Regions from separate parts of the Homo sapiens genome. Here region 1 is linked to region 2. The links come from fine-mapping of genetic effects on gene expression. Tissue or cell type: left ventricle. Region 2 holds a variant in brackets; the other region holds the start of a gene. All regions are shown on one strand. Distances are from middle to middle.

Region 1 (15,565 bases), 140 kb before region 2:
GAGTTCTCCTCTCCTTCCCCCTTAGATAACCCACAAAACACATGTTAAGCAAAGGCAACAAATACAGTCTAGTGTTTGAGACTATACACTTAGGCATCAGAATACCTGGATTCAAGTCTGTGTTTCCTTGGGCCAGTTAATTAAATTATGTGTGCTTTACTTTGCTATTCTGTAAAATGGGGTATTAACAGTATCTCATAATGTTGATGTAAGGATTAACTAAAGTAATAACAGTTAAAACTCCCTGGCACATAGAAGGACCTTTAGCATTTGCTCCAAAGCTTAAGAAAAATGCAGTGAAAAGGCCACAAGTAAGAAACATACTTGATTTTGATCCACAGGTTGATGATATTTGCCCACTGGAACAAGTACACATGTTAGGACGGGAACAAAATCCATCTCCACAACTATTTCTACAAATCGCTGTAGAAAGCACAATAGGAAAATGAATGAATAACTATATAATAAACCATAGTTTACAAAACAAGAAAGCTGTATTTAAAAATAAAAAGCCTGAAAAACTAAGATAAAATATATGATATAAATGTCTAACTTCAGATATGCAATAAAATTACCCATTGCAGACTTGGGAATAAGTCTCACAGGTATCCTTATGAAAACGTGTAAACAAATGAAGCTGTTTCAAATTGCATAATCCTTTAAGGAATCTCCACACTGTTTTCCATAGTGGCTGTAAAAGTAGAACTACCATTTGATCCAGCAATACCACTACTGGGTATCTACCCAGAGGAAAGGAAGTCATTATTCGAAAAAGATACTTGTACATGCATGTTAATAGCAGCACAATTCACAACTGAAAAATCGTGGAACCAACCCAAATGCCCTTCAATCAACAAGTGGATAAAGAAACTGTTATATATATATGGTGATATATATATATAACTGTGATACATATAATATATATATCACCATATATATAATGGAATACTATGCGGCCATAAAAATGAATGAATTAACAGCATTTGTAGTGACCTGGATGTGACTGGAGACTTATTATTCTAAGTGATGTAATTCAGGAATGGAAAAGCAAACACTGTATGTTCTCACTGATATGTGGGAGCTAAGCTATGAGGACACAAAGGCATAAGAATGATATAATGGACTTTGGGGACTTGGAGGAAAGAGTGGGAGGAGGTGAGGGATAAAGGACTACAAATATGGTGCAGTGGACACTGCTCAGGTGATGGATGCACCAAAATCTCACAAATCACCACTAAAGGACATATTCGTGCAACTAAATACTACCTGTACCCCAATAACTTATGGAAAAATAGAAACAAAAATAAAGTCATATGTAAGTAAACGTTACAGAATGAAAACATGGTAGAATAAAATAAAGCACAGGCTTTTTAAGTTTAAAATACATATATATGTGTGCGTGTGTGTGTATATATATGTATGTATATATAAGTGTATATATATGTATGTGTGTATATATATATATATATATACACACACATATTTACTGGCTTTAAAAGGTCTAAAAGAACTTTCACCAAACAGTACAATGGATCTCACTGCATGATGGGCTTATGTATGGATTATTACTTTTTTAATAAACAGTTAAAGCTTTGCAATAAGGAAAAAAAAATTGCATAATCCTAAATCTTTAATTGTCTTATCAATACAGGTTGTCTCTTTCATTAAAGACTGAGAGTTTAAAATGCAGAATTCACCCAGAGAAGACAGCCTTGATTCTAAGTAGTTGGGAGGGTTGCAGGAATAGAGAAAATACAGCCCACTATGCAAAAGCCTTCACAGGAGACAGACAACATGAAATTGGCTGAACCAGAGGCTCCAGTTCTAATGACTTGGCCAAGCCTCAAGGGTTCCACACACATTCCTTCCAGGCTGGTATCTGACCTACCCTGTGATCAATCTTTGGTCCCCTCAATAATTCCCTCTCCTTCCTACAGCCTTTCTCCTTCCATATTATCTCCACAACCTAGCGTATTCCTACTGCTCAGAAAAGCTACTGTGGCATTTTGATGGTGGGGAGAGTCAAAGCCTCCTGCAGCTGTGACCTCCAATGAACAGAAAGGTATGAGGGTCATCACAGCAAAGAATGTTAGGCTCACTGACACAATACATTCCACAGATACTCCACACTTGTAGCCAAGTACCTTCGAATGGGAAGTCTCTCCCATGTTTAGAGACAGTTCATTTAGGAGCTGAGAGATTTCTCTCTATAACCATAATTGAGTTCTCTCTTTCGGCACAAGGGCTGTGTACTTTAATGCTCATGCCATGACTGGATATATAAAGACAAGAAGAAAGTCTGGAAATGCTCTGAAACTGGCTGTAGTTAGGGAAAGGTCCCACAACTTTCAAAGAGATTTGGGACCCTCAACAATGAAAAAAGCATTTCCTGCAGAAGTAAACTAACTCACTAATTGTTTTTCTTCTCCAAGATGCCTTCTGATATCCATATATTACTACTAGCATTAGTACTTCTTATAAATGAAAACAGTGGGCTGGGTATGGTGGCTCATGTCTGTAATCCCAGCACCTTGGGAGCCTTAGGCAAATGGATCACTTGAGCCTAGAAGTTGGAGATCAGCCTGGGCAGACCCCAACGCTACGAAAATTTTTTTAAAAATTAGCCTTGCACATTGGCATGTGCCCATAGTCCCAGCTACTCAGGAGGCTGAGGTCAGAATGCAGCTTGAGCCCGAGAGGTCAAGGCTGCAGTGAGCTGTGATCATGCCACTGCATTCCAGTCTGGATGACAGCCAGATCCTGTCTCAAATTAATAAAAAAAGAAAAAGTGAATAGTGTCAAATACTGTGATGTTAAGATAAAAATATTTTAGGCAAGAATATGTTTCCTGCCATGGAGTTGACTCTTACTTCTTAAAATGTACTACAGTTTCTGATCACCAGTAACTCTCCAATGACAAATGTGCATTAAAACATTGTTTTATTTCAAAGTTTCCTCCTCCCCAGAAGGCCAATATTTAGTCTAGGCTTAAGAGAGGAGACCCAAAGTACCTCCACCCGGGTTCCAAACCAAATGAAGGTTTGATGGGCTGGAGACTGAGCATTCTCAGGCATTTACCTGTCGTGGATACAGGTATATACTCTGTATCTGTGAGCCAATGAGAAGCAAGAATGCTGAGGCCCTTTTGCCCCACAACAGCCTCAGACTATGGTACACTTACTGAATACGTCCCTCCCACAATTACTAAAACTATGAGACCTAGAAATACCAGAGGGAGAGGGAGACAGGACCTAGGGGCTGAGACTTCAGTGATGCTGTGAGAAGTCACATGGCCAGGTAAAGAATACATAGTACCCAAAAGGTCTGAAGTTTAGTTGTCACTCTGCCATTGATCTGCTATGAGCTCCAGAAAAACCCACAGCCTTTCTGGGTTCAGTGTTTTCATTTGGTAGCATAACATAAAGGAATTATACCGGAATGCTCTGATGTTTCCTCAGGTCTCAAATGTTATTTAGTCCAGCCAACCTCATCCCACTCTTATTATATTGATCAAAATACTGTTCATAGCATAATTTCACAATAAATAAATTAATAAGCAAATTGTTTCATTGCTTCATGTTCTAAGAAGATTAAAAAAAAAAAGGTGAGAAAGTCAATTCCGTACTTTTGGAAATGAATATTTGGAAGTTTGGAAGTACTTCAGTAATTTTTCTAGGCTACAACTAAGCACAATACCAACAAAACATAGAGACTCAAATCAAAATGCATTAGGTTTCCAGAACTTGGAGAATTACAGTTTCTTTTTAATATCTTCTCCTTATAAAGCCTGTCAAACACTAAAATTCTGTTGACCATTTTTTATTTTTCTATATTAAAAGAATGCTGAGGTACAAATGTATGAGAAAATTAATATTTGGTTTTTATTTATTTGTATTTTATTTATTTTCTTTTTTGTAAATGGTCTCAGATACTTTCTTTTGCTAAATGGTGTGATACAGATAAATCCAATAAATATAATAATTTACTTAATTCATTATCATCAGGAAGGCCTGGAATTAAAATTCTTGATTTTGAGTTTATAACGGTTTCATTTCACTTATTACCTCTACATATGATCATTTTAAATGTCAGACTAATTGAACTACTGAATTGAATGCAGGCTATTAGCATTAAATGAGACTCATGCAATAGAATATAAAGGTATTACACTGTCCCTATTTTGTGCACTGTTTAATAATCTTAGGTACTTAGAATTTTTAGATGTGTTTCTAATAAATATTTTTGTAGATACGTCTTGACACAAGTGTTATAAATGTTTCTTACAGATATAAAGATCATTTCAAAGTTTACTCTCATAGATTTCTGATACGTGTAAATTCCAATGTAGCTCATAACCATCCAAATATTTCAAGTCTCAGAAATGCAGATTACAATAGTCACTGTTACCCTGAGATTTTCAAAGCTGATTTTCTACCAGTGATCAGTGGGGCCATACATATATTTCTACTGCAAATATTCTGGAAGGCTCTGCTCTCTGGAATTCCCATTCCACACTGATCCAATAAAATCTGACTTTACAGATTTTCAACACGTACCATGAACCAATCCCTCCTCCTCGGCTGCTCTCCAACTCAATAATGGCAGTCACATTCATTACATTTAGTGAGTCAGACTTTCCGCCGTGCCTAAGTCACTCCCAGCTAGTATGGCAGGTGTGTGATGAGTGACGTTAGCTGTTTCAGGAGTCTAAAAAACCGTGTAAGTTTAAAGCAGCCATGGTAATGCCCTACTGGCCTGAAAGAGTAAACCCACCCTCCATTAATGCCTCACATATGACTTCTGTGTTGGAGAGAAAAGAATGCAGAACATGTTCTTTTAAAAAATAAAGCAAAGGCTTATTATAATCAGAGGATTTGTTCAAAATATTTATAAGTCACTTTAAATAACACAGTTGTTTCCTATTTTTGCCATTGGAAATAGTGGGATGTTAAGGTAGAAAAAATAAGAAGAAATTAGTCTTTATGACACTGGAGATTTCATCTCTTTTTTAAAAACTGCCCAGAAATAACATTAAGCATCTATCTCAAAACCACAAAACCAATAAATACAGAGTTAGAAATGCCACTACATCCTTATTATCCCTTGGTTAGTGTGCCTTGCCCTTTTTCTCTGTTCACAGTTGCATAATTATTTTCTCCCTGGAGAACATGGAGGTCAATCTAAAGTCAAGACTGGCTCTAAATGAATGTGCTGTCTATGATACCTGGCTCTCCTTCCAACAAGACAAATGTGGTTGTGCTACATAAACACACAGGAGAAGGCCAGTCACACTGCAAGTCACAAATTTACAGGCATATGAAATAAGACATCCCAGAGTCCGTGACTGTGAGGCTGATAACTAATGAGCTCTCCAATTAGAACTTGGAGAACTGGTTATACACTTTGGAAACAGAATAAAATAATCAAAACTTTTAAGGTCAGAGATACAGAATTTTTCAAGGTCTAAGATTCATACTTTGGAAATCTACTGCACACTATTGAGGTTCAGGGTCTGGAAACCCTAAATTTAAACGTCTTCCAAAAAGCAAAAAAAAAAAAAAACTCAAGCCCCTTTGTAAGAGTTCTGTCTTTTAAAAGTTTGTTAACTTAGGTCAACACTAAATCCGCGAGAATGCTCCTTTCGTATCTAGGTTATGTGGTTGTTGATATAAAACCAGAAATAAGAAAGTGGTTTTATATAAATGCCTAAGAAATCTTGATCTTCATAAGGCCCAAACCTCAAGCAGAGTTAAAAGCCTGATAATTTGCATAATAACATGTGGTCTCATCTGGATTTTTTACAGAAAAAGTGGTTTTGAGTTATCTAGATAATTGCTCTACTCCTCCCCTCTTCCAATTTGTATTAATAGACATAGAAAGATAAAACTTTCAATTATCTTTGAAATCTTTATCATTATTGCCCTTCAACAGAGTCTAGAAGTGAAGTCTGAACTGACTCAAACCGGTTGAGTCTTCCCCACTATTCAAATGGGGCCGCGTCCCGATTATCAGTGCAATGTGATCACTTGATTTTAAACGCAACTATGCGTCCAAATGGCTGAGTGCAAGAGGTCGGCCGGAGATAGGGCCGAGTGCGCTGCCCCAAGCTGCGATCCCTGCCAAGCACTCACGGACAATGCACTGGTTTCCTCCAGGGAGCGTCTTCCATCCAGGGCAGCAGTAGGAGTGGAATCTGGAGCCGCACACGTTGGGCCTGTGATGGACAAGCGCGGTCACGTAACAGATAGGTAGAGGGATGCAGCAACATATAAACGGTCTTCGTAAGCAATGCCCCGAGCGAGTAGATTTCAGGACAACAAACAAATCAAAATTACACTTCAAATTATTGGAGATCGGGAGGCAGACGTGGAAGCAAAAGAGCTAGATGCTGGAATGCAGGAGGGTCAGAAATGTCTAAACACTGCCTTTCATCTGTCGTCCCTTGCCTGCCTTTTTAAAGGGCGAAAAGAGGCATGGAAACATATAATTTGCTACTATTCTAGCTTCCAGATGCAGAGAACAAAGGGACCATTCCGTTCCAAAGAATCCTTGCCCTCCTTCCCAAATCCATTCCTCCTTGGTCAACTGTTACTTTGGCCCCGACGTGTCAAGGAAAGCGCGTCGCAAGGTGGAGCGCTCGGGTTGACGATGAGAAGGTGAGCTGTGAACCCTGCACACGTCCTCAAACAAAAGGCTCACGAGCGGCGGCCCCGACGTGGGGAGCAAGCAGGCTTCTCTGGCCCCTGCAGCAGGCGGACCCAGGCCCGCCTGCCGCCGGACATTCAGAACCTGTTCCCGCAGCGCGAGCTCTGCACACGCTCTGCGATCGGCACCCCTGGACCCCCTAACCACCCGCCGCCCAACCCCCGGAGAGAGGGCTTTCCGCCCGCTGAGCTGCGGGGTTGGGAAGGAAAAGGGGGACGCGCTCCTGGGGGTCTTTGGATATTCTGGCAAAGGGGGCTGCAGCTCTAGGCTCCAGCTAAAGGGTCTGGGACGGAGTGGGCCAGAAAGCCGCCAAACTGAGGATTCCCCCCTCCCCCAAGCCGGAGCCCTAGGTGCGGAGCCGCTTGCCCACTTACCCTCGGAGCACGTCCTGCTGTCCTCGCCGGCGGACGCGGCTGGCCACTGCGGCACCCTCCTCGCGATACTCGGGCGCTAGAAACCCGCCTTCAGAGCCTGCTGTAGCGGACCGAACCTGTTGCGGCGGCGGCTGGGGCCGGGGCGGCTTGGGCGGAGGAGGCTGAGGCTGGCCGGCCGTGCCCTGCGCCCAGAGCACCACACAGCCCAGCCACAGGAAGTAGAGCTGGAGACACAGCCTCCGTCTTCTCCCCATCGCCGGCGCCGAAAGCGCGCGGCCGTAGACCCGCGGAGAGGGAGTGATCAAAGACAAAATCTGCGCGCCTCAGAAAAGAGTCAGGGTCTAATAAGCCCTTCGTCGGCTCCGGGGACTCCCTCGGGCTCGGGCTCCCTGCTCTAGCTGGAGACCTCGACAGAGCGCCGGCCCCCTGACTGCCCGCGAAGCGAGACGCGGGGCGCCGGGTCTAGCGCAGTGAGCGGCGAGGCGCGGCGGAGGTGCAGCCGGCAGCCCCGAGCGGTACACGTTGCATAACCGGCCTAAAGCCCCGAGCGACTCCAGGACCGTCAGCGGGCGGGGGAGGAAATTACAAAAGCCCTGGCGTAAAATTTCAAAAAATGTGAACCTCAAAAGAAAAAAGGGCCTGCACGCAGAGCTCGGCGGATTCCCGTGCGCTCCGAAGACGGATATTGGAAAGCTGCAAAAGTCACCAGAAAGAAACAGGCAAGCAAACAAAAGTCGCCCCCAGAAGAAGAGGAGGGTTCCCTCCGGGCTCGCTCGGAGTCCCACAGGGCAACGAAGCGCGGGTAGCGGCTGCGGAGCCGGGCGGAGGTGCGCGGGGCCGGGGCGTGCGGCCAGCAAGAGAGAGGGCGGGAGGCTGGGCGCTGGAGAAGATGCGGCGGTGGAGGGCGCGGCGCGGGGGTTTTAGAGGCCCGGCGGGGCGCGGGGCGGGCCGGCGGGCGGCGGCTGTCAGTGGGGGCGCGGCCGTCCACACGTGGGGCTCAACCCGGACTGAGAGGCCGGCGCAGAGTGGGCGGGGACAGAGTAAGGGAGAGATCGGGACTGAGGAACGAGGGGAACCAGGGTTGGGTGAGGGGAAGAGGAAGGAAGGGGGGGAGGGCGAAGGGAGGGAAGAGGACGGAGATTGGGGAGAAGGGGGGCGAACCCGAGAGGAAGGCCGGGCTGGAAGAGGGACTTGGAAAGAGGGATTGGCGAGCCCGGGTGCGAGAGGAAATGAGCGGGGGATGGGGGCGAAGTTAGGGCAAAGAGAGAAGTGGGAAAGGAGAGGGAGGGCCAAGGTCCGGGCGCCGAGAGGAGGGGCCCGGGGGGCCGGCTGGAGGGGGCGAGGCGCTAGGCGGCTTTGCTTCCCGTCCCCGTCAATTGGCCGCTAGCTCTGTTTTGACTGCCTGTACAAAGCGAGTAGACGGCGGGGGATGGGGCGATTAGGGACCGGATTTGGGAAAGGAGGCAGCAGCCCCTTCCCCTCCCCCTCCGTCCTCGCCCGGCCGCGGACCAGGGACTAGGGTGCCTAAGCGCGCCAGGCTTGGCCGGACCCGCAGCTGAACTGACCCGCAGCTGAACTTCCCCGCCGGACAGAGGCCGCAAGGTTGAGGATGAGAACGGGTCTTTCTGTAGGGTCCCGGCCCCTGACCTGGGATGGGGGGATTCGCAGTCAGCCAGGAATAGAGGCTCACGGGGCTGTTGGTTGCAGCCTCAATCCAAGAAGGAGGAGACCTCCCCTTTGCCCTCCTACCCCCACCGCCCCACCGGGAGCGGCGTCAGTCTGCGGGACCAAATTAGGGGCTGGGAGTTTCCAGATTGAAATGCGCCCTCCACCACCAAGAGGGAGCTCACGCGGCCGCGGGGGGCCGAGGCAGCCAGCCGGCGCCGCGGTCCTGGGGAGTCCGTGCAGGGGTGTGCTCTGGTGTGAAACCTGGCAGGACTCTGCCTGGGCTTGCATGCAGGGAGGGGTTAGAGACTCTGAAATGTACTAGCGGGCAGGGTGGTGACAAGGCGGGTAAATGAGGCTCGGGGCATGCCCTTGCTTCCTGGCTTGGACCCCTTCTGATTGATTAAATCCTAGCAATTGGTGCAACCCTCTGTACCTCTTAGAGTGCCTCTCACCGGCCTGCTCTGGGTTCTTCCTTTGTGGCCCTCCTTTCATGAAATCTCTGTGAAGTCCTGGTCATTTCTCATTTAGTGGAATATCACAATTTAAAAATCAAACACTCCTGAAAACAAGGAGAGACCATCCAAGCACAGTTTGCGAAACAGTACAAAAGAGCAGTGTCTGGTTTATTCAAGCCTAGAAAACCTTAGTTTAAAGGGGAAAATGTTGAATATGTATAGGAGGGTGTGTGTGTGTGTGTGTGTGTATATATATACACGTACATATATACATATATACACATAACATATATATGATATATATCATATATCATATATATCATATATCATATATATGATATCATATATATGATAGATCATATATGATATATCATATATATGATAGATCATATATATCATATATATGATATATGATATATGATATATATGATAGATCATATATGATCTATCATATATATCATATATCATATATATCATATATATCATATATATCATATATATCATATATATCATATATCATATATATCATATATATCGTATATATCATATATCGTATATATCATATATATCATATATCATATATATCGTATATATCATATATCATATATATCATATATCATATATATATCATATATCATATATATGTATTTCTGGCCCAAATTGCCCAGATGTGCTATTTGACAGCCAAAATTCTCCAGTAATTGGCACAACTCCCTCCTTTATTTCTCCATGTAGTCAAAGGGTCTGAAGGTAGTACCCCTTGTTACAGTATTCTCATAAAGCAGAAGAAAAGATAAGAGTTACATAATTTCATGTGAGACACCGATTTGTTAAAATCCAGAGAAAGAGCAATACAGTTATTTTCACGTACTTCGCTTCAAATAATAAAATTATTTAAACTAAAAGAGCTAACTAATGTAACTATCTCCTGGTTTAAAGCAGTGTTTTAGTCATACCATTTAAAACATCCTGTATCTGCTTTTTTTGTTGTTGTTGCTGTTGTTTAATACTTACGTGGCTTCATGGTTCATTCCTGTCCATCACATTAAATCTAAATGCTCTAGAATTGCCTATGCCTTTACCCTTTGATCCAGCAATTCCACTTTTAGGAACCTATATAAAAGATACATAGACAAAAAAAAATGAAATGGTGCATACATTTGACTGTTCTTTGCAGCACTGTTTATAATAGTGAAAGACTAGAAACACAAACTTCCCATGAACAAGCAACTGTTGTGTATGACTTCATCTATTCAGTGAAGTATTATGCAGCTGTCAAATATGAATGAAGAGAAACTCTGTATGCTCTTAGAGAGTGATCTCTAGCATATACAGTCTACTAAAATAAAAAAAAAGCAAGGTACAGATAGACTAGGCAGTTCATTGAGACAAAGTAGAATAAAGGTTACCAGGAGCTCCAGGAAAATGGGAAGGATGAGTTATTGTTTAGTGAGTACAAAGTGGTCTGCCTAGGATGATGAAAAAGTTAGAAATGGATAATGGTGACGGTGGTCCAACATTGTGCATGTACTTAATGCTACTGAATTGCACGCTTAAAAATGATTAAAATGGTAAATTTTATGTTATGTCTATTTTTTACAATATTTTTTAAATGAAAGCTGTATAATATTGTATGCTACTTTTTAGGGGTATGAGTGTGTTATAGATTTAACAACAAACAAGAAGTATAAACTAAATCTAATAAAAAATGGTTATCTGTAGAGAAAGGGGAGACTATGAGGAAAGAAACAATGGTGGAAGCTAAACCTTTCTAAATAAACTTAGTTTTATAGTTCTGGCTTTGGAACTATGTTCCAAAGACCTAGAAATAGTGACAACCCAAAAACCATAAGGTCATTGTGACCAGATTGTGGTTCCTAAATACCATTTCTAAATTAAAGGAATCAGGGTTCCTTGGGTGAGTGGCAGATTCTAAGTCTGGGAAAGGAAATGCATAAAGTGAATCTGGACTATCTGTCTTGTCATGCCTGAAAGCAAGAAATTATCTGACTATTAAGGTCATGTCAAAAGGAAACCTGAGCTAAGTTGAAAGAGATCTTGCTGGTTAAGGATGGGGAAACTTGAGCATCAAAAAGAAAAAAGAAATGACAGCAAAAGATTGAAATACATGAAGTGTGTCAGTATTCAAGATTTCCGAATGATACTCCAAACAAAAATTAGTTGGCCACTTTTGGAGGTTGTTAGGGCACAGCTCACTATTCTAAACGCATCGATAAATAAAATTATTAACCAGTTATTCTTCCTTTGCTAGAAAGACCCAGAGAAAGTATTTCTTTTGAAAAAAAAAAAAAACCACAGTTGTAAATGCAGGAATGATGGAATTAGAAAAATCACTACTTGTAAACCCTAATAAAATAATGGACCTAGGCAACGGTTTTTAACAACTGCTAAAACCATTAGGTAAGAAGTGTTCAACTTGTGGCCATTTTTCCTCAGGGTATATTTGGCAGTAATTGGAGACATTTTTTATTGTCACAACAAGACAGTGTGTGGGAGTGGTGATGAGAGTATCAGAGATGCTGCTAAACATTCTACGATGTACAGGCCAGTCTCCCATAGCAAAGCATTATCTGGTCCAAAATACAAATTTACTTGGGAAGCCGTGCATCAAAAAGTCAATTGGGAACTTTTTAGTGAATGTGTCAAGCTGTTACCACCAGAACCTACTGATTAATTATTAACTTATGAAAAGTAAGACAACCAGACATTATGTTTTTATTTTTATGGTGCAATAGGAGGTACACAGACCACCTATGAAATATCTTTGTCAAAAAAACTGAGCCTGAATGTAACCATATCTCTACATTTAACTCCCAGTTTCCAAGAACAATAGAGGACCATGAAACATATTAAATGATACCTTGAGAATATAGGTAACCAGATCTAGAATGGGATATACCACAAGACCAAGTTCTTCAAATAAATGACATCAGTAGAGAAGAGGGAGGGGAACTGTTATGGCACAACCACCAAAAGCAATGCTTGCCCCTTATCTGGGATTTTGATATGAATGTTAGTGAAAAATAACATTTTTGATGCTATCATCCAGTCTAGTAAGTCTTATTTATATGGTTGCAGCTACAGTCAATATATAACTGCAACTGCGTGAGACACCCCAAGTAAGAACTACCCAGGCAAACTCTTCTGAGTTCCTGACCCATAAAAGGCTAAGGCAAAATAAATTTTTTAAACCTATAACTTTAGGGGTAATTTGTTATGTAGTGATAGAACACTGAACTGAACACTGGTTACTAGATATTAAATATTTATTTTTAATTTTGGGAGATGTGACAATGGAATCATTGTTATATTTTTAATATACTGGCTAATGTTATACTTACTAAAGTCTTTATAGATGAAATGATAGGATGCCTGGGTTTGATTCAAAATACTGCAAGAAGAACAAAGGCAGAGTGGATTAGATGTACTTTATTCCTCTTGGCAAGTATACTTAACTAAACATAAATAAATATATGTGGAGAGAGAGAGCATGCACACATAAGAAGACTGTAAATGGTAGGGAGAAGAAGGCAGACTAGTTACCCTGCTAGTGACCTTGGAACCTGAGGAATGACATGATGGTGGTTTTCCTGAATTGTCTTTTGCTTTTTGTATCCCAGAATGAGTGCTAGGAAATCTGGCAATTTGGAAATGCCATTGGCAACAGACCAAAGAAAGCCTCGAAAGAAAGCCTGCCCTCTCTAGCCAAAAGACAAGAAAGGGATAGCCTAGAAAGACAAAACACTTTTAGACAATAACTGCCCTAACCAAACCACAGAAAAAAACTGTAGTCACCTTTACCAACAATGGCCAAGTAAGGAGCCTAGACTTTCATCCTTACCAGGGTGTAGCAAGGTATCCCTCCCCTTCTCCTGGATAGTGTCAGAGAAAGCCAAGTGGAAAGCTCAGACTTTCATCCCCCTGCACAGTCGTGAGCCACCTTCTCCCCATGGTGTCAGTGGAGAAGCTGGACTTCCACCTCCACCTAACAGTAATGAGATGCCCCTGTCTGCTGGGATGGTGTCAGAAGATACCTAGTAGATGCTCAGGAATCTTCTCACTGCCCAGCAGTAATGAGGCCATCCCACCACCACCAAGGTGTCATGGAATATCATGGGAAACTACATTGGGAGCAGTAATGAAACACCACTGTCCTAGCCAGAGTGGTACAGAAGAGCTTGAGTGGTGACCCTGTACTGTCACCCCTGCCCAGTAATAAATAACAAGTTACTCCTCCCCTCAAGAGTGTCAACAGAGGCTGCATGTAGATCTTGGACTTCCACCGTCATCTAGCAGTAATGAGGCATCCCTTGCCCTGTCTGCCCACCATTGCAGTATCAGAGGAGGCTGCTAAAACAAAGAATTTAAATATAACCCAAAGTCTCACAAAATAAAGTAAAAAATGTCCAAGATTCATATACACCTACTATTTACCAGCAATTTTTTTTAATTCCAAGATTCAACTGAAAATCATTTATCATTGAAAGAACCAGGAAGATCTTAACTTAAATGAGAAAAGAAAATCAATACACATCAACACTGAGATGACACAGATGTTAGAATTGTCTGACAATATTCTTAAAGCAACTACAATAAAAATGCATCAGTGGGCCATTGTAAAACTCTTGAAACAGATGATAAAAGAAAGAAAGTAGAAAGCATCAGCACAGAAATAGAAGACATAAAGAAGAACCAAATGAAAATTTTAGAATTTAAAAATAAAACAAAATTTTAAAACTTAATAGATGGGTTTCACAGCAAAATTCAGAGAGCAGAGGAAAGAATCAGTGAACTTGAAGATAGAAAAATAGAAATCACTCAAACTGAACAATGAAGAGTATATACACTGAAAAATCAAACAGCCTTAGGGAGCTATGAGACTATAATAAAATATGTAACATTTGATTATCTGAATTTCAAAGGAAGAGAAAGAGGATAAAGCTGCTGAAAAATTACTTGGAGAATAAATAATGGTGAAACATTTTCAAATTTTGGGCTTTGCATAAATATACAGATTCAATAAGCCTAATAAGTCCTAAACAGAATAAACCCAAAGGCATTCACATCAAGACTCATCATAGTCCAAGTTTTGAAAATTAAAGGCAAAGAAAAAAATCATGAAAGCAGCGAAAGAAAGGACACTTTACTTGTCCTTTCTGGAAAAAAACAATTCAAATGATAGCAGATTTTACATCAAAAAGTGTGGAAGCCAGAAGGGAGTGACACCCATTTCTTCAGTGCTGAAAGAAAGTAAAGAACTGTCAACCAAGAATTCTATACCCAGTGGAAATATCCTTCAGAAATAAAGGACACATGAAGACCCTTTTAAATGAAGGAAAACAAGAATGTGTCTCCATCAGACCCACCCTAAAATAATGGCTAAAGGAAATTATTTAATCAGAAATGAAATATTAACCAAAGGATTCTTGAAACAAGAAGGAAGAAAGAACAAAAAGAGGGAATATATGGAAAAGTATGAGTAATTACAATAAATTTTATCTCTTGATTTTTCTAAATATGGTTCATACAAAAATTATAACATTGTCTCAGGTATATATAAGAAATATTTAAGAAAATTATTTTGTAAACAGAGGAAGGGAAAGACACATAAAAGGTGGTAAGGTTTCTATACTGGTAAAATGATAATACTAGTAGACTGTGATAAGTTAAAGGGGTAGCACAGGGAGACCTTTGTGATGAGGAAATAGTTCTCTAACCACTTGGTGGTGCTTACCCAAATCTGTGCATGTGAAAAATGGAATAGAATTATACATACACATTGTGCCAGTGTCAATTTTGTGGTTTTTATATTGTACATAAGAAATAACCATTGGGAGAAACTAGGTAAAGGGTAAACAGGATCTCTCTGTGCTATCTGTGCAATTCTCTGTGAATCTATGCTTTTTAAAACATTTAAAATATTAAGGATAAAACCTTTTTAAAGAAACTTGACACATTCTTACCCATCTTCTGTCAATGTAGAGATATTTCATCCCATGCGATTGAAAAAAGGAGGTTAATAGATGAAATGGCAAAATGTTGATAATTATTAAAACTGTATATACAACCCTCTATCAGTAATTTAAAGATGCAGCAGATGGAAAACCAATGAGAGCATAGTTGAACTGAGCACCACCACCGATCAGCTGGATCTAGTTGACATTCATAGTATATTTCATTTAATAACTACAGAATACACATTCTTCTCAAGCTCTCATGGAATATTCACCCAGATAGACCACAACTTTGCCCATAAAACACACCTTAACAAACATCTAAGAGAATAGAAATCATACAAAGTATGCTCTCAGATCACAATAGAATTAAATTAGGAACAAAAGA
Region 2 (15,565 bases):
GTTCGCAACCTAGCAATGAGATAATCTCTGAAGCATTTTACTATGAATTAAGAAATAAAGGGGAGAATACATAGCAGAAAAAAGAACCACAGATATGGAGTTAAATCAGAAGGAGTCAGATTCTAATTCCATGCCAATTGGATAGACTTCCCCAGTCTTCGTTGAGTAGCTCTCCATATGTCTCCAATTTAAACCAGGCCACTCCCAACAGGAGCTCTACCTCAAAGAAGGCTGAGAAATGGCTGGATGTCAGCGTCCTCAGGGTACTTAAAATACATTTGCTCTGACAGGATCTTGAACACCTGCAGTTATTTCAAAGGAATTTTGATCCAACAATAATTCACATAATTTATCATCTAGAGATGCCAAAGATTCTTTGAAAAACTATGCTGTAGTTAGCAAAAGAAAAAAAAAAGAAAAAAGTGATGGTGGGTGGCATTATTTTCACATAGGATGTTTTTACAGGCATCATTAAATTCTTGTTTTTTCTTTCCAGTCTTTGTTTCTCCGTAGTTGAAACATTGACTGTGGATGCATTTTTGAACTTTATTGTGTGTTTACAGTGAACACATACAAAGGAGCTATTCTTTTCTTTCAAGGGACCTGGGCTTTCAGTTTTGTTTTCATCTCAGATGAGAGCATATCTGAGAATCTCACCTTAATAACATTTACAATTTTGAGAAATTCCATGATTTTTCTTTTAACATAATCACACTGAGATTTGAAAATATTTAATGCATCTGAGAAGAATATGTTTAGTCAGAAAGAATAAGGGTTTGGATTCTTTACAGTTCCAGTTGTAAAATAAATGTCTTTCACCCAAATTTAGGGCTCTGGGCAAGCTGGGACAGAAAGGACAGCGTGTTGTGATTCCCTTTGTAAAACCAGTCAGATGTGCTCAAGGGGAAAAACTGGGGAGAAACTAGCAGTCTTGACATTGTGGATTGTGGGGAACCAGGTTTGTTTGAGACAAGCTAGGGAACTATTGGATCCAGTTAGCATTCAGAGAGAGTAAGAGAATTGATGCTTCCATAGGTAGACAGATATAAAGTAAAGCTTATGAAACCAAATCTACAAAAAGGCTCCAGGTCATCATTAGCAGAAAAGTTAATTAGAAAACGTGCTTTGAAAGTTAATTTCTTCAATAGTTACCTAACTTCTATCTTTGCTTTAAATAGAAACAACTTTATTAAATAGACAGAAGGCAGCTGTCTGCTGTCATAAAAAAACTTTTTAAAAACAAAAATTTATATATTGATTCCCCTGAGAGGTGTTTGGCTGCTACTCTCATAGCAGCACGTGACTGAGATAAGTCTACTATTGCTGTTCAGCTAGTCCTCAGTAGAAAACAATGAGCATAGGATTTCAGCTTTCAGGGTGAAGTCTATTTCCTGGAGAAATAGGGAAACCTCTACATTTTCCCCTTTCTCAGATTTTTCTTATTTAACAGAAATGATACTCCGTAAGAGCAGAATTGCCAAATATTAGTGTTCTTTGTAGCGGGTTAAATAATGAGTATTATTCTGACTCTACATCCTGAAAAAACCTGATCTTTCATAGATTTGCATGAATCAATCAGGATTCAGAAAGGTTGGTTAAAAGACATAGGATACACAAAAATAAAATCCCATTTTCAGATTGGATCAACTTGCCATGGAAATTATTACCAACATCATTTTTGTGTAGCTCTTCCAAACCTCAATTTGGCTTTCTTGCTTGGAAACACATAATTGCACAAACTATGCTCCCCAGAGACACTTTCCTGCACCTGAAAAAAAATCCAGTTATGCCCACAGACATGAACAAAAGAGCATGGATAGCCGAAATGAATCTCTCTTCCAAATGGGTAAAGGGACTCAGGCAGTGGCACATTGAGGTATTAAACATGTACTTTTTTTTTTTTTTTTTTTTTGCCACATTGATTGACCTACCAGAAAGCAGAATTGAAGAATGTTGTGGTTTTACTTGGGAGGTGGGTTCAAAAGCTTTTTGCTGCTAAATGGTATGGATAATTTGTATTTTATTTTATGATGAAAAATAGACTTATCCTGACTGAAACCTCTTAGCAAAAACCCTTTCCAACTTTTCAGCGAGGTTCTATTGAATCAAGTGCTTTAAGTTGATCTTCAGTTTCTGGCTTCAGAAAAAAATACCATGTCCATTCTGAAATGGAACAAAGTTTAAACACAGCTTTCTGGGTGGTTTGACACAATTCTAAACTAAAGACTTGTGCACTCACAGCATGACCAAGATTACCTCCCCGCCTCCTGCTGTTTCTTTATGGTGGCCCTTGATTGCAAACCTGCTATTACAGCCTTCTGGAATCCTTAACCCTTTCAAAGTAGTTTTTTTCCTTCCTGTCTTTCTTAGTTCGCTCCATATTTTAGAGATGGGTCTTGCTGAATCATCTCAGAATTTGTGATTTTTGTAGACCTGTCACACCCTCTAGGCTTTCATGGTACAATGAAGTTCATTACATTTTAATTTTTAAGTCATATTTTTATTATGAAAGTCTGCCTCAGATTTTATGAGTGAAATGAATGTTGGTTCAGAGCATGGGATCTAGGGCCAAACAACACTACCTGGGTTCAAATCCATGCTTTCCTTGTTAGCTATAGTATGCTTTTTGGACTGTTTTGTCTTCTGTAATTAGTTTTTTCATATGTAAAAAGGTTCAAAACCAAAGCTACCTCAGAGAGTTGTGAAGAGTAAATAAGCCAATGCATGTAAAGTGCCTAGAACTGTGTGTGGCACATATGAGCTCCAGAAATGTTAGCTATTACTGACCAAAAGTAGAATGTGATGTTTCAGGTGTGGGAAAGAGTAAACTTTTCAAAATTTAAATGATTCTCAGGATCCTGTGAATGATTGATACAGACCATCTAGTCACATTGGTAAATGTCATTAAAGACCAAGATTCGAGGTATTTAAGTTTCTTTTTATGTAGAGTAGGAATAGATATTTTTTTATAAAGACTTAGAGGCAGCCAAACATACCTATCATATAAGAATCGACCATATAAAAGTATTGGGGGGGAAAAAACTATAACTAGTTATCGAATGTGTGTTTCCTCCTAGGACTGTGAAATCAATGATACTCTGAGATATGCAGGGATATAGCTCCCTGCTGCCCCATAGTGGCAGTTGTTGTCAGTACAGTTTCCTCCCTGCAGGTCGTTAGTGGGGCTCCATGGAAATTCAACCAGTAGATTGCTAGGAAGGTAAATACAACCTACTGTATTCTTATCAGTAAAGGCCAGTGGCAATAATAGATAAGAAGAAAAGAAACAAGATCCCACCCACATAAGAAAAGAAATGTAAGTATCAGAAAGAAGTATCCTGTGAATTAATGTTGCCTGAGAAAAATGCCATTAATCCAAATGGCATGAACAGAGTGGCCCTAAATTGCTGTGAGCCTACATGAATTACTGCAGATTGGCTCTTGAAAACCTGCTACTTTATTCTCACTGTCTGTTTGTCTATCTATCATCTAAATTATTTTTCAAGCAATACTACCCTTATAGTATGTAGGGGCACTTTGAAAGCTAGTAATTTGGTGACACTTCAAGCCATTATATTTGAAAAACATTTTTTATTCTTTATTTAGAAAAGAGACTGAGCTTACAAAGGCAAGTCATGATGCATGGCACTGAGGATCATAGCTACCTTAGCCACATCTCTGCCCTCCTGAGCAATTCAGCTCTGCCTCCAAACTTGCATTTCCTACTCAGCAAAGTGAAAGTTCTATGAGTAAGTCAATTCCCCATTCTTAGAAAGCAATTTGTGATCATTTACTGTTTATAGACAACATTACCTATCAATACCAAGCAGCTTATCAAAGTGTTAACTCTGCACATATAGGTCTCTAATAAGGGTCCTGGTCGGTAGATACTTCCATATCTCACTGTAATTTCAGTCAGATTTTGGCAACTGCTAGTTGTTAGTGTCTTAGTTGCCTGTCTGTGCTTTCCCCAGGCTTCAAAACTTGGATTTTATCATCTGTCATGTTCCCACATCCAATATGTTGCCAGATTTGGTCCATCTGGTCTTGCAATATGACCTCCCACCATGCTTTTCTCTGCATTCCCCTGACACTGCCAAAACCCAAGCTCAATTACATCTCATCCAAATTTTGCCACAGCCTTAAACTTATCTCCCTCCCATCCTCTGTAAAGAAACAATGTGGTAGATTGAAGATATTATATGTTTTGGAGTCAGAGAAACCTCAGTTTGAATTCCAGTTTCACCACTTACTTTGCTGTGTGATCTTTGGCAATTGATCTTAATATGCATCTTAAAAAGGAGAAATAATAATCTCTTCAAAGAATCTAACACCCTGTTTGGCACAGTGTTGATACTTTAAAATGCCAGTTACCATTTTCCTTTCCCTTCTCTGTGGAAGATTCAAGGGCAGGCTAGAAGAAACCATCTCGTTGGTTACAGGTAATAAAATAGTGCATTTTAAATTACAGAGAATTTAAAGTTAACTGTGTAAATAACTGAAAGAACATTTGTTTGTTATTATATCCTGCACTTATAACCCTAAATAATGTCAGTGATAAAATGCTTCTCTTCTAAAAAATCCTTTTTTGGTATATGTTCTAAAGAATAGCTGCTATTGTTGTTGAGTTTCAACAGTAACATCAATTTATAGTAGCTTAAAATCAGCACATTTATGTTACCTACCTTTTGATAAGGTTTGGCTGTGTCCCCACCCAAATCTCATCTTGAATTGTAGCTCCCACAATTCCCATGTGTTGAGGGAGGTACCTAGTGAGAGGTAATTGAATCATGGGGGTGGGTCCTTCTCATACTGTTCTCGTGATGGTGAATAAGTCTCATGAGATCTGATGGCTTTATAATGGGGAGTTTCCCTGCACAAGTTCTCACTTTGCCTGATGCCATTCATGTAAGAGATGACTTGCTCCTCCTTACCTTCTGCCATGAACGTGAGGCCTCCCCAGCCATGTGGAACTGTGAGTCCATTAAAACTATTTCCTGTATAAATTACCCAGTCTCAGGTATGTCTTTATTAGCAACATGAAAACTGATGAATACACTTTCAATAAACACTGTATTGTACATAGGCATTAATCCAGAGAACTTTCAGTTATACAGCTTACCCCTGACATACAGATTCAGTCTTTGCCCACAGAGAACATACATAGCAGGTTGGAAGTATGCAAGCATGTTCCAGGCGTGATTCAAGTATTCCGATCTTGTAGTACTACCTATTCCTGCATTTAAACAGTTGATCTGAAATGAACAATTATAACTCAAGGTCTGTGAAGATAAAAAAGCAGAATTTGAATTAATTCCATTTCATGACCATTAAGAGTTATTTGCATTTAAATTTTCTGAAATTATTGTGAAATAGGATTTTTATGACTCTCTGCCAAACTTATGTCTGAGACTGTTTGAAACAACCTGTAGTATATTGGTTGCTTCAGATAAAATAAAATTTTGAAACTTAAAATTAACAAAACATGTTCTTTAGTCAACTTTGAATGAAGAGAGATTGATAAATATAGCTATATTTGCTATGGAACAGGAATATGAAAAACTATTGATTTTGATAAAGTTGCAGAAATCAAGGCTTTTAACAGAAACTGTAATGTTAATATTCATTATTGTGTCAAATAAACATGCATGTATAAGATTTTTCTCTTTTTCCAAAAATATTTTAGACATTTACAAGTGTATACCATAATACATACTATATATTGCTCTCTTTTACTGATTTTGTTTTTAATTTTTTTAGTGGTATAATTACATTGTAAAGTTTTAGAAAAGAAAATCTTAATGGTTCCATTTCTTTTCTAGCCATTGTCCTTATTTATCTCATTTTATGTTTATTACTGAAAATAAGTTTGTTATAAAGAGGAGGTAGGTGTTAAAAAGTGATGCACTTTATGTGTCAAATATAGCACCAACCCATCTTAACTCCAGGCCTCTCTCTTCAATTCTTTTCAAATATTAATGTCACTTATTTTTCTTGAGGCACAAATCTGATCATGCCATTTGTCTGTCAAATATTTTCTGGGGCATATTCTTTCATGCTGAAAGAAAGTTGCATGAAACTGCATTAGTGTGTGGCATTCATGGATTACCACCTCCTTGGGAATGCCATCTCCCCATCTTCTTTTCCTGTGTCCATAACTACTTGCAAGTCCACAAACAGGCCCTTTCAGGCCCTGCCTCCCACCTGTGCATATTGTTAACCTCACCTGGAATGCCTGGGCATCTTCTTTCTTCGTCTTCTCTAATCTTGTACTGGACCAACATCAGATTTGGGCTATCCTTTCATAAAACCTCTCCTGATGCTCCCAGGGAAAAAAAAATCATGCTCCTTTCCTCAGAATTTTCAGAGCTCTTGGGTTATGGGAATTTTCTTTTTCCTCTAAATCCCTTCATCTCTTGTGGTGTTTGTACATTTCTATTATATTATAATAACTTATTTATATTTCTTTTTTTAAATTTCTCCTTGGGGTAAAAGCTCCTAAAAGGCAAACTTCGTATCTTATTTATCTGATTCAGAGAACCAACAAGGCTGCTTGAGTAGGCATGGTGCTTCTTCTGCTTCAGTTTGCCCTTGCTGGATCCCCTAAAACTCCTAGCTGAGTGATTCTCATTTAGCCTGGGACCTGAGAAAGCCCTGAAGTTTTGCATGCAACTGGGTGTTCACATGTGTAGCTGTCAGATGAGCTGGACTCAAAGGGATTTAATCAGCTGCCATCCTTTCAAGCATGTCCAGTGGGCTAGTTTTTCTTGCCCTTGGATATAATTTTCGCAATTTTAATAAACTTTCTGATTCTTTTCAATCATAGCTACAATCTTATTTCAGAAACTGCAAAGTCCTCACAATGTTGAATTTTACCTGAGTCTTGTGCTATTGGTAAACAGTGATGGTTAAGAAATTCTCCCACTGTTTTGTGTTCTGAAGTAGCTCTTTGGACATTACCACCCTGCCCCCTGTGACTTAGAGAAGACTCGATGACTCTTTGTTTACCTACGACACAGACTGCAAATTCTCATTCTTTGACTTAGAAATAATTCATTGAACTACTTGTCCCTACTGGTCAATCAGAACAAAATACTTATTAACCAAACTTTTGTTGAGTTTCCCTCTTTCCTCCAGGGCCCTGAGCTCCCCTCTCCCCAGCCTGAGCTACATACAAGGTCTCCTGAGAGTAGGCTGGCTTCAAGGCAAAACAATCTCTGATCATACCATTCTTTCATCCACTTGTCAACACCAGTTCTTTGTAGCCCTGTCCACTCCTCCCGATAGCAGATACACTCTTTGCCTAACCCTTGAGGTGCTTTCATGTCTTACTGTCAGAGTGTTCTCCCTACTGTAATCATCCCATGCCTCTATTGCAATAGTCCCTTTCCTTACCTTGCAATAATCCTTTGAAAGAAAGTCTCTCCTTACAAAGTCCAGATACGTTTTGTATTTGACAGTCCAGACCAGAGTAACAATAAAAACTGCAAACTCTTTGGTAATTTAGAACTTCCCTCTGCCCTAGCTTTGAATGGCTTTAAGTCTGGAAAGCCCATTGTCTTTTTTTCTCCTTGCTTTGCCAGCACTTCACAATTTACTGGCTAAGATTCTGATTCTTTCACACCTGGCTGGGGGAAAGGCGATTTGTGAAAGAGACTTTGGCAGGTATTGTTGAAATTTGGTACTGGTGGCTCACCAGGGCTTTTTCTTCTTGGTACATTTTTTGTGGGTTTCCAGGAACGTTCCACTTCTGGAAATATCCAATGTCAC[C/T]TTCCCTCATACAGCCAGCCACCTCGGCCCCCAGGCCTTGGAAGTCCACCTTTTTGGGGGGTCATTTTGCTCACTGACATCTTTCCTCACAGATAGTACTACTGGGCAGAGCCCTTTTAAAGGGAGCCTAGGCCAGTTTCCTCCTGTGGTGCCCTTTGGCTCAAAGGACTGCTCACCTATCTTGGCAGAGAAGCATCTTGTTCCCAATTCTGCCCTTTCTCTGCATTGCTGCTCCCAGCCACTCAGGGTCTTTGTATTTCTGTCATGACATAGAGCCTATTTCCCTGTGTCTCCCAAGCAAGTACTCTGAGTGGATCCCCTGTAGCCCTACCACTTGGCTCCACTTCTTCCCTTCCCCACCTGAAGCAATGAAGAAAACACCTCAGCCCGAACTCCTCGCAGCATTCTCTCACCTTATGTTAATGTTCTTTTCCCCTGAACCTCTTGTATTACCTGCAGCTACATGAAGCATAAAGAGTTAGGGTTAGTTTTTGCAAATCCTGCATAGGTAGTGTAGTACCTTAGTTCCGAACATGGAGGTATGTGGTACCTACCTTTGGGCCTTTGAACCTCTGCCAAAACTATGCAGGAAAACTCCCTTTTACATATGGTTATTTATTTATTTTTCTGAAGCAATTTGGTCAAAGGTGTCAACACATTCTTAAAAATGATCTCCAATCCAAAGAAGGTTAAAACCGATGGGTCACACTAGATGGCCTATCATACACCTTCACGTCTCCCCTGTTGTTCACTCAGCCTGGTCAGTGCTTATTCTTTCTTAATTTAATACATTTCTCTTCATCATTCGAGACCTGGTAATGGCACCCTTTCTTCTCTAAAGTCATTCCTTCCCCTGTCACTCCTCCGTCTTACAGAACAAATTCCTGCCTTCCATGTGCTACCAACCAATGTTACCCATACCTCTGCATGACATGTCACTTTTAGTTAATTCTTTAACTCAACATATACTGACTGAGTGCCCCAGATGTGCCAGGATCTGTGTCAAGCAATGAGGATGTGTGAGGTGGACATGGTCGCTGACCTCATGGAATGTTTTCTCCTCTCCTTGTTTGTTTATTGTTTTGAAGAGACAGAATCTTGCTCTGTTGCCCAGGGTGGAGTGCAGTGACACAATTATGGCTCACTGCAGGCTCTAACTCCTGGGCTCAAGTGGGAGCCTGGCTAATTTTCTTTATTATTATTATTTTTTTTTGTAGAGATGAGGGTCTCACTATGTTACGCAGGCTGGTGCCTCAGCCTCCCAAAATGCTGGGATTGCAGGTATGAGCCACTGTGCCCAACCAACATTGTCTCTTCTGCTATATCAGGAATTCCTTGATGGGAGAGTTTTCTGTTTATTAATCTTTAATCCTTGCTATGTGGCTTATAGGAATGCTCAGTATATTTACTAAATAAATTAATTAATGGACTTACACACAAAGCCTTAAATATGTTGACTTTTGTGACCCTGAATATAACAAGCTTGTTTAAACTGATCAGGCAAAAAAGATGATAAATGTCCCAGAAGAAAGAGGAAGTTTCACGTGATCTGAAAAAAGCTTGTGAAACTAACTTCACGTTGAAGACCCAGAGTTTCTGGCCTAGGAGCTGTTGTGGTTTTGGAATGATTGTTGAATGACCAACAATCATTCCAGAGAGATACAGTAGAAGGAGTCCTGCTACTACATTTTTGTCACATTCTTTAGCATTTAAAATGGTAGAGCGCTGTTGATAAATTTTGTGATACAACATTCGCTCAACAAATATTTAGTGAGTACCTACGACATGGGAAAATGTGTACTTAGCAGTGGTGACAATCAAATCAATTATCTACCCTAGAAAAGCTTACAACCTGATGAGAAAAAAAAGAAGCAAAAAATGATATAATATAAAGCAAAATGTATATCAGATAAATATGTAAGTGATGATATGGGAAGTTCCAGTGGTGGAAAATAATCACATAGATTATGGTTCTGGAGAAATAAACTTCCCAAAGATGATACCATTGGAGCTGAAACTTGGAAACTGTATAAACTGTGAAAAGCAGAGCTCTTCAGGCAGAAAAGAATAAGAACAAAAGCAGGAAGATGAGAAAGTACAGCTTATATTAATTGATCTGTGGACATTTACATGCATACATTTTTCAACATTAAGCATTTCCTGTGTAGTTTGTCATTGGTTTCTAAGTACTCACTTTAGTCGCTAAAGAACAAAGTGATTCCTCTATAGCTTGAGGTACCCTTGATGACCTTATAGAGCAGTCACTCTGGGGTATGTTTAAAGACTTTGGGGAAGCCAGGGGCTTTCCTTCTCTTTGGTGTCTGCATTTACTTAGTGGGAAGCAGTGCATGTGTTCACACTTCTTATTTAAAGCAAAAAATTTGCAACAGTTTTTGTCTTGTAACTAAAGTCTTTTCATATTTTAAAATTGCCATCGACTCTGTGTATAGAGTCACTAAAACCAGATCTGGGTCAGTATGTTCTTGGGATCACATTTAAACTCAGGGACCACCACTCACCCAGCCTGGGAAGGGTCACGGCTTTATCAGTCACATACTTGAATCAGAATCAAAATAGTTTTCCTCTTAGCTTAGCCTTTTTCTCCCACATTTATCTGCATTCTCCTGTGTTGATTTCTTTGTGTTTTTGTAATCTACTTCTCTCTAAATTTTTTTTTTTGGCATACTTCCACTTTGTAGTCTGTCTCCATAAACCCGGGAAAATGGACACTTGCCTGTTTTATTTCTCTCAGTCTTTAAATCTGATTGCTGCTCAACTGGTACGGCCGGTTCACATTACTCACTAACCCCCCTGTGGTGTAGTGCCCTGGTAATAGCGGCCACTTATTAAATTCCTTACTAAGTGGCAGTCTTTGGGCTAGCTAATTCACATCATTTATTTCATTAATCCTCATTTTAATTCTTAAAGTGGATAATATTTGTTCGTAGATGAGGAAACTAAGGCTCAGGGAAATTAAGCAAAATTCTCAGCAAGCATCAGGGCAGAACATTCTAACACAGTCTACCTGCCTCTGAAGCCTCTTTCTCTGTATGATCCTTGAGATTCATGATGTGCAGTTAAAGTTGGGTGTATTAAAACAATTCACCATATAGAAAAAGGAATTGATAAATACATAGGGGGAATATAGATTCGAATAGCTGTATTGAGCAATAGGCAGTCATTTTGTTTAGACTACTGCCATAAGTGTTACTACAGCTCATCTCTCTTTTTCGTGTTTTTTTCTGTCACTGTGCTCAAAAAACAGGACTAGTGAAATACAGTTCAGAAATTACTTGCACCCACAGGATGAGCTTAGACAGCCTCCCATCTCTACTTCCTTCTCTGCAGATGAGGAAACTGAGGACAGGGGAGGCTAAGTCAGTGCCTGAGGTAACATAGATGAGGGTAAGGGAAGACTGGAAGATGAGTTCCTGACCTCTACCACGGTATGTTACCAAAACATATGGAAATTCTTGTTGAGACAAAACTCAAGTCAATGCAATCCAATTGTGGATTATTGCAGAATTAGCTATAAAATACATGTAAATATCAGGTACAAAATTTTCTCCTCCATTTATTCATCATATTTACCCATTTCATCTCCTTTTTATTCTTATGTACAGAATTCTCATTCCATTCTCACATTTTCTCTTTGGCATCTGTAACTGTTCAATTGTTTCTTAAGTGTCAATCTTAATATATAATATATTTATAACTTATTTATTTTTGCTAACTTCAGTAAGATGTGTTTATGTTTTTCTCTACACATCCTTTTATGTGGTTAGCCTTTGTGATACCATATTAGTGTTAGTGACTCTTTTGGAATTATTTCTAATGTTTGATTATTTTTGGCTTGTTAGCTCTGTCTTTTTTACTGCTTTGGTATTTTATATTAGCCTGTCATTTTATCATTGTTATGTAATCTATCATCATCCACTTTTTATTTCCATAAAACAAGCACTGTTGATGCATTTTGTCTTTCCTAAATATTAGCAGCATAGGTTCTATGGTTAAAATATGAGCTGTGGGCTCAATACTTGCCTCCATCAGTAGTTAGCTGGACAACTGGATAACTGAGGGCAAGTTACTTAATCTATTACTTCTTCAGTTTCTTCAGCTGTAAAATGTGGATAATAATTATCTTATTTCATATATTTGTGAGGATTAAATGAGATAACATATTTGAATCCATTATGTAAAAATGCATTCTCAATTTTAAATTGTATCCCAAAACATTCATTTTGACCATATTCAAGAAACAGATATTCTCCCCCTTTCTACATGTATATATTTTTTCACAGATATCTCTAGAACAATGATAAAAGATATATTTAGAATTCTTTATAATCCTACTACTATCTTACGAAATCAACTTAAATTTTTTTTTACATAATAATAATCATAGGATGGCTACATTTGGAATTCTCCTCGTTCATGCAATAATTATCATATTTCTTAAAATGTTAGATTTCAAAAGTATAATTTTAGTGCTATGTAATACTCCTAGGAGTTGATAATTTGCCATTTATCTTAATTTTACCCCTTGTCATTCAACATCTGTGTGGTGGCAGAAAGTGCATGGATTTTAGAGTTAACAGAGTTAGTTGATTTGAATACTGGTCAGGTAATATTCAGCAGGCTATTTAACGTCTCTGAGATTTACTTTTCTTATCTGTAAAAATGAGAATAATGATTTGTATCTCCCAGGATTATTTTATTTTGAAAAATTAATGCGGGCAAGGCTCTGACGCAAAGTATTTGCTGAAATATTTCCCTCCCACCCCATTCCACAATGGTTCTTTTCCACCCTACTCTCACTCCAATTTTTGCTCAAATATTTTCTTAAATGGAAGATATGTTGGATAGTATTAAAGAAAAGAATTGGACTGGATATGTTATATTTTACTAAGATGCTATATTATCAATTTTAAACTGAGCTCAACTAGGAAATTCTTTTAAATGTTACTCTTGTATTCAAAATTGATCTGGGATTTTTTACTTACTTCATAGTATTGAAATTAAGAAGTAATTATCTTACTTTGAAGCCATCATAGCAAAAACAAACAAAAACTGAATTCCCATTCATACCATGTTACAAATCTATTTGATACAGTTATTATCTATTTAGTTATTTCATCTTCAAAGAAAAACTACAGGGGCAGATTTAGAAGTTTGTGGCTGTGCCGACATCTTTCCTACTATAAGTTCCAAAGGCAACATTCCAGTAGATTATTTCAACTTTATTATTTTAACATAAAAATAATTGCATCAGAATTTTCACAATAAATTCACAACTGGAATGGGTGATAATTATTCAGATCTGTTTCCTTACTTGCCAAGAGTGTATTGAGGTATCATTAATTCTCTATGTCATTTCTCAGAGGCTTTTCCAATTTTAAAAATATCTGATGGAATATAAGAACAAAGATTTACCACAAACTAACTTCCTGGAATTGCAAATGAAATCACCAAACTATGTGAATGAATTTTGGATCCATGCCTAATGCTATTCAGCCACATCTTTTCTTTATCATGATTCTCTCTGAGAATGTCTCATTGCACAGGGCATTGAATAGCTTCCCTGGGTAGTTTTGTTTTGTTTTGTTTTTTCATCAGTAGTTTACCTAAAATACAAATGGCATTGAATTCGCAGTTAATAAAATATATTATATGGCACATTTTACTAGTGAAATGACATTAGAGTGAAATATTTTCATCTAAAATTATGTATAAGGATTGACTTAAGAATGGTTATTTCAGGCTATTAGATAACAGAAGTTCCAGGAGATATACTATATGGTCAATTATTTGAAAGGTTAAAAATCCAATTTAATTGGGAATATTATTATATGATGATTATATTTATTATTATATATGATTTATGTTAGAATCGTGCCTGAAAATTTTTGTTAAGCTTCCAAACTGGCACCGTTCATAGTAACCATCATAAGGAAGAGATAGTACAAGAATTGAAGCCCAGCCTCTGAAATATTCTGAGCCGAACTTGCAGTGACGTTCAACTTTCAGCTCCACAGCCTCTCTTGCAATCTTTTAGCAGCAGGCACTGAATTACTGAGAGAAACGTAAGATTTATGTTTTTGAAGATAAATATAGGCATATATCTTCAAACTCATATTTCAGACACAAAGGGGTCAAAACATAGTGCACGTCTACTATCTTTCTTGAACTGTTCCTTCTTTCCTGGTCCAGGTGGTTTTCAGGTACAAGTGTAAGAAAGAGCAGTCAAGTGGTGTGATCTAAGGTGTATATAGGAGCCCTTCTCCCCCTCCCAGTTTACCTGAATTTCCCCCACCTGCTCTCTGGTACTTGAAATTCCCTTAATAAAGGACCTAGATTTAAATTCCACACTTGAAGATAGAAATGGGGATCAAAACACAAATACTCCCTTTGAGAAAGAGCACATTGACTTAAAGTCACACTAAAATATCTGGTTATATCAGATCCTTGACTCAAAAGCAGGTTTGTTGTTCAGGTAGGGGGAGAACAAAATAAATAACTTCATAGAAGGAAGTATGTGTTAGCCGAGTTTTATAGCGAAGACTATTTCCATTTGCCCACCTAAAAGCAAATTCATTTTAGCTACATTCAAGCGTCAGTCCCTTTATTTATTTATTTATTTATTTATTTTTGGTAAATGTAATACTTCTCAAAAAGAGAGGTGAGAACATAATTTGCTCTGAATTATTGGATGCTCTAAGTGTATCTTAGTTTCCTAGGTTAGAAAAAAATTACACAGTACAACACTGAGAATATAAGTGTGGCATTGTTGAGCCTCTGCTTAATAATCTATAAAGCGTTATGAAGAAACTTACAGATACCTGAAGACTAGATTCTTTTTTGAAATTTGTAAGAAAGTAAATTCCACAAACTTGTTACTTGTCTTGGGAAAGATTCCAGAACAGATTATTAAAAGATTGGTTATAAGAGCTCAGAAAACAAGTGGGGAACTACTGGGTTTATGAAAAAAAGCACAACCAATTTTGGATTCATTCCCTTTTGGGATTGTGGATCAGGGGCATGGTATGGACGTTGTGCTAAGTTCAGTAATGCATTTGATCAACTCTCTGGATATTGGTGGAAAAATTTGAGCTGAAAAATAGGACAGTGTTTAAATGAATTTATAACAAGTTAGAGAACTATGTGCAAAGATCATTGATTAAAATTAACTTATGTTATCTTTAGCCCTGCTCTATTCTGTATTTTCAGTTATGACCTTGATAAAGTTGTAGATGATATGAAACAGGAGGGTTATATATCACATGATGGAGTGAATACTCAAATTTGAGTGGCTGGCATTCTATAATGTCAAGCTTATAGTTAATAGAAGTAATTTAGAACCCCAAATCTCACTGCACAATTTAAGGTGAATTAAATATGGCTTAAGAGCAACATGTGTGAGAAAGGCTTATGGGCAGAAGTACCAGAGGCACAATAAGCACAGGGACAGGCTTGTTCTAACCTGTGCTGGTCTAACATGCTACGTGGTGTGTTCAAGACAGGACACCACATTTTAATAGATACACAGACAGGCAAACTATGTGTCCAAGGAGAGGGACTGAAGTAGTGAAAAAGCCTTGTGGTTTATATCATGTAAATAATCTAAAATTTGGATATTCTTACCTTTGGAACTCTCTGATATGTAGGAGTTGTCATTTGTTGAACTACCATGCAGATTTTCTGGAACTTTTCTGAATTCAGGGAAGTTTTCATTCCTTGTAGAACAGTAGCATTCTTCCTATTCATTGTGGACTAGGAGAAGTTGGAGAACACAGCT

Which allele goes with the higher level. Alleles are on the strand shown, and positions count from the first base shown. SD is a standard deviation of normalised expression in the study named.
As copies of C replace T in region 2, the expression in left ventricle of the gene that starts at base 7,975 in region 1 goes up (moderate effect, 0.53 SD a copy in GTEx).

What was found. PIP is the estimated chance that this variant, and not a neighbour inherited with it, causes the effect.
Region 1: it holds the start of FBN2, and the variant in region 2 is fine-mapped to the expression of FBN2 in left ventricle (GTEx, PIP 0.98).

Annotation. Positions count from the first base shown.
Region 1 is chr5:128,530,271-128,545,835 of GRCh38, forward strand. FBN2 (fibrillin 2) reads right to left here and starts at 7,975. Exons shown (of 65, transcript NM_001999.4): 1 at 7,080-7,975; 2 at 6,132-6,214; 3 at 325-423. The coding sequence starts at 7,333. RefSeq lists enhancers at 5,645-6,575, 8,301-8,801.
Region 2 is chr5:128,671,907-128,687,471 of GRCh38, forward strand. All of the region lies in intron 2 of LOC105379168 (a long non-coding RNA gene), which reads left to right. Among named protein-coding and RNA genes, the nearest start is that of FBN2, 140 kb to the left of the region's middle. The variant C/T (reference allele first, on the strand shown) is at 7,771.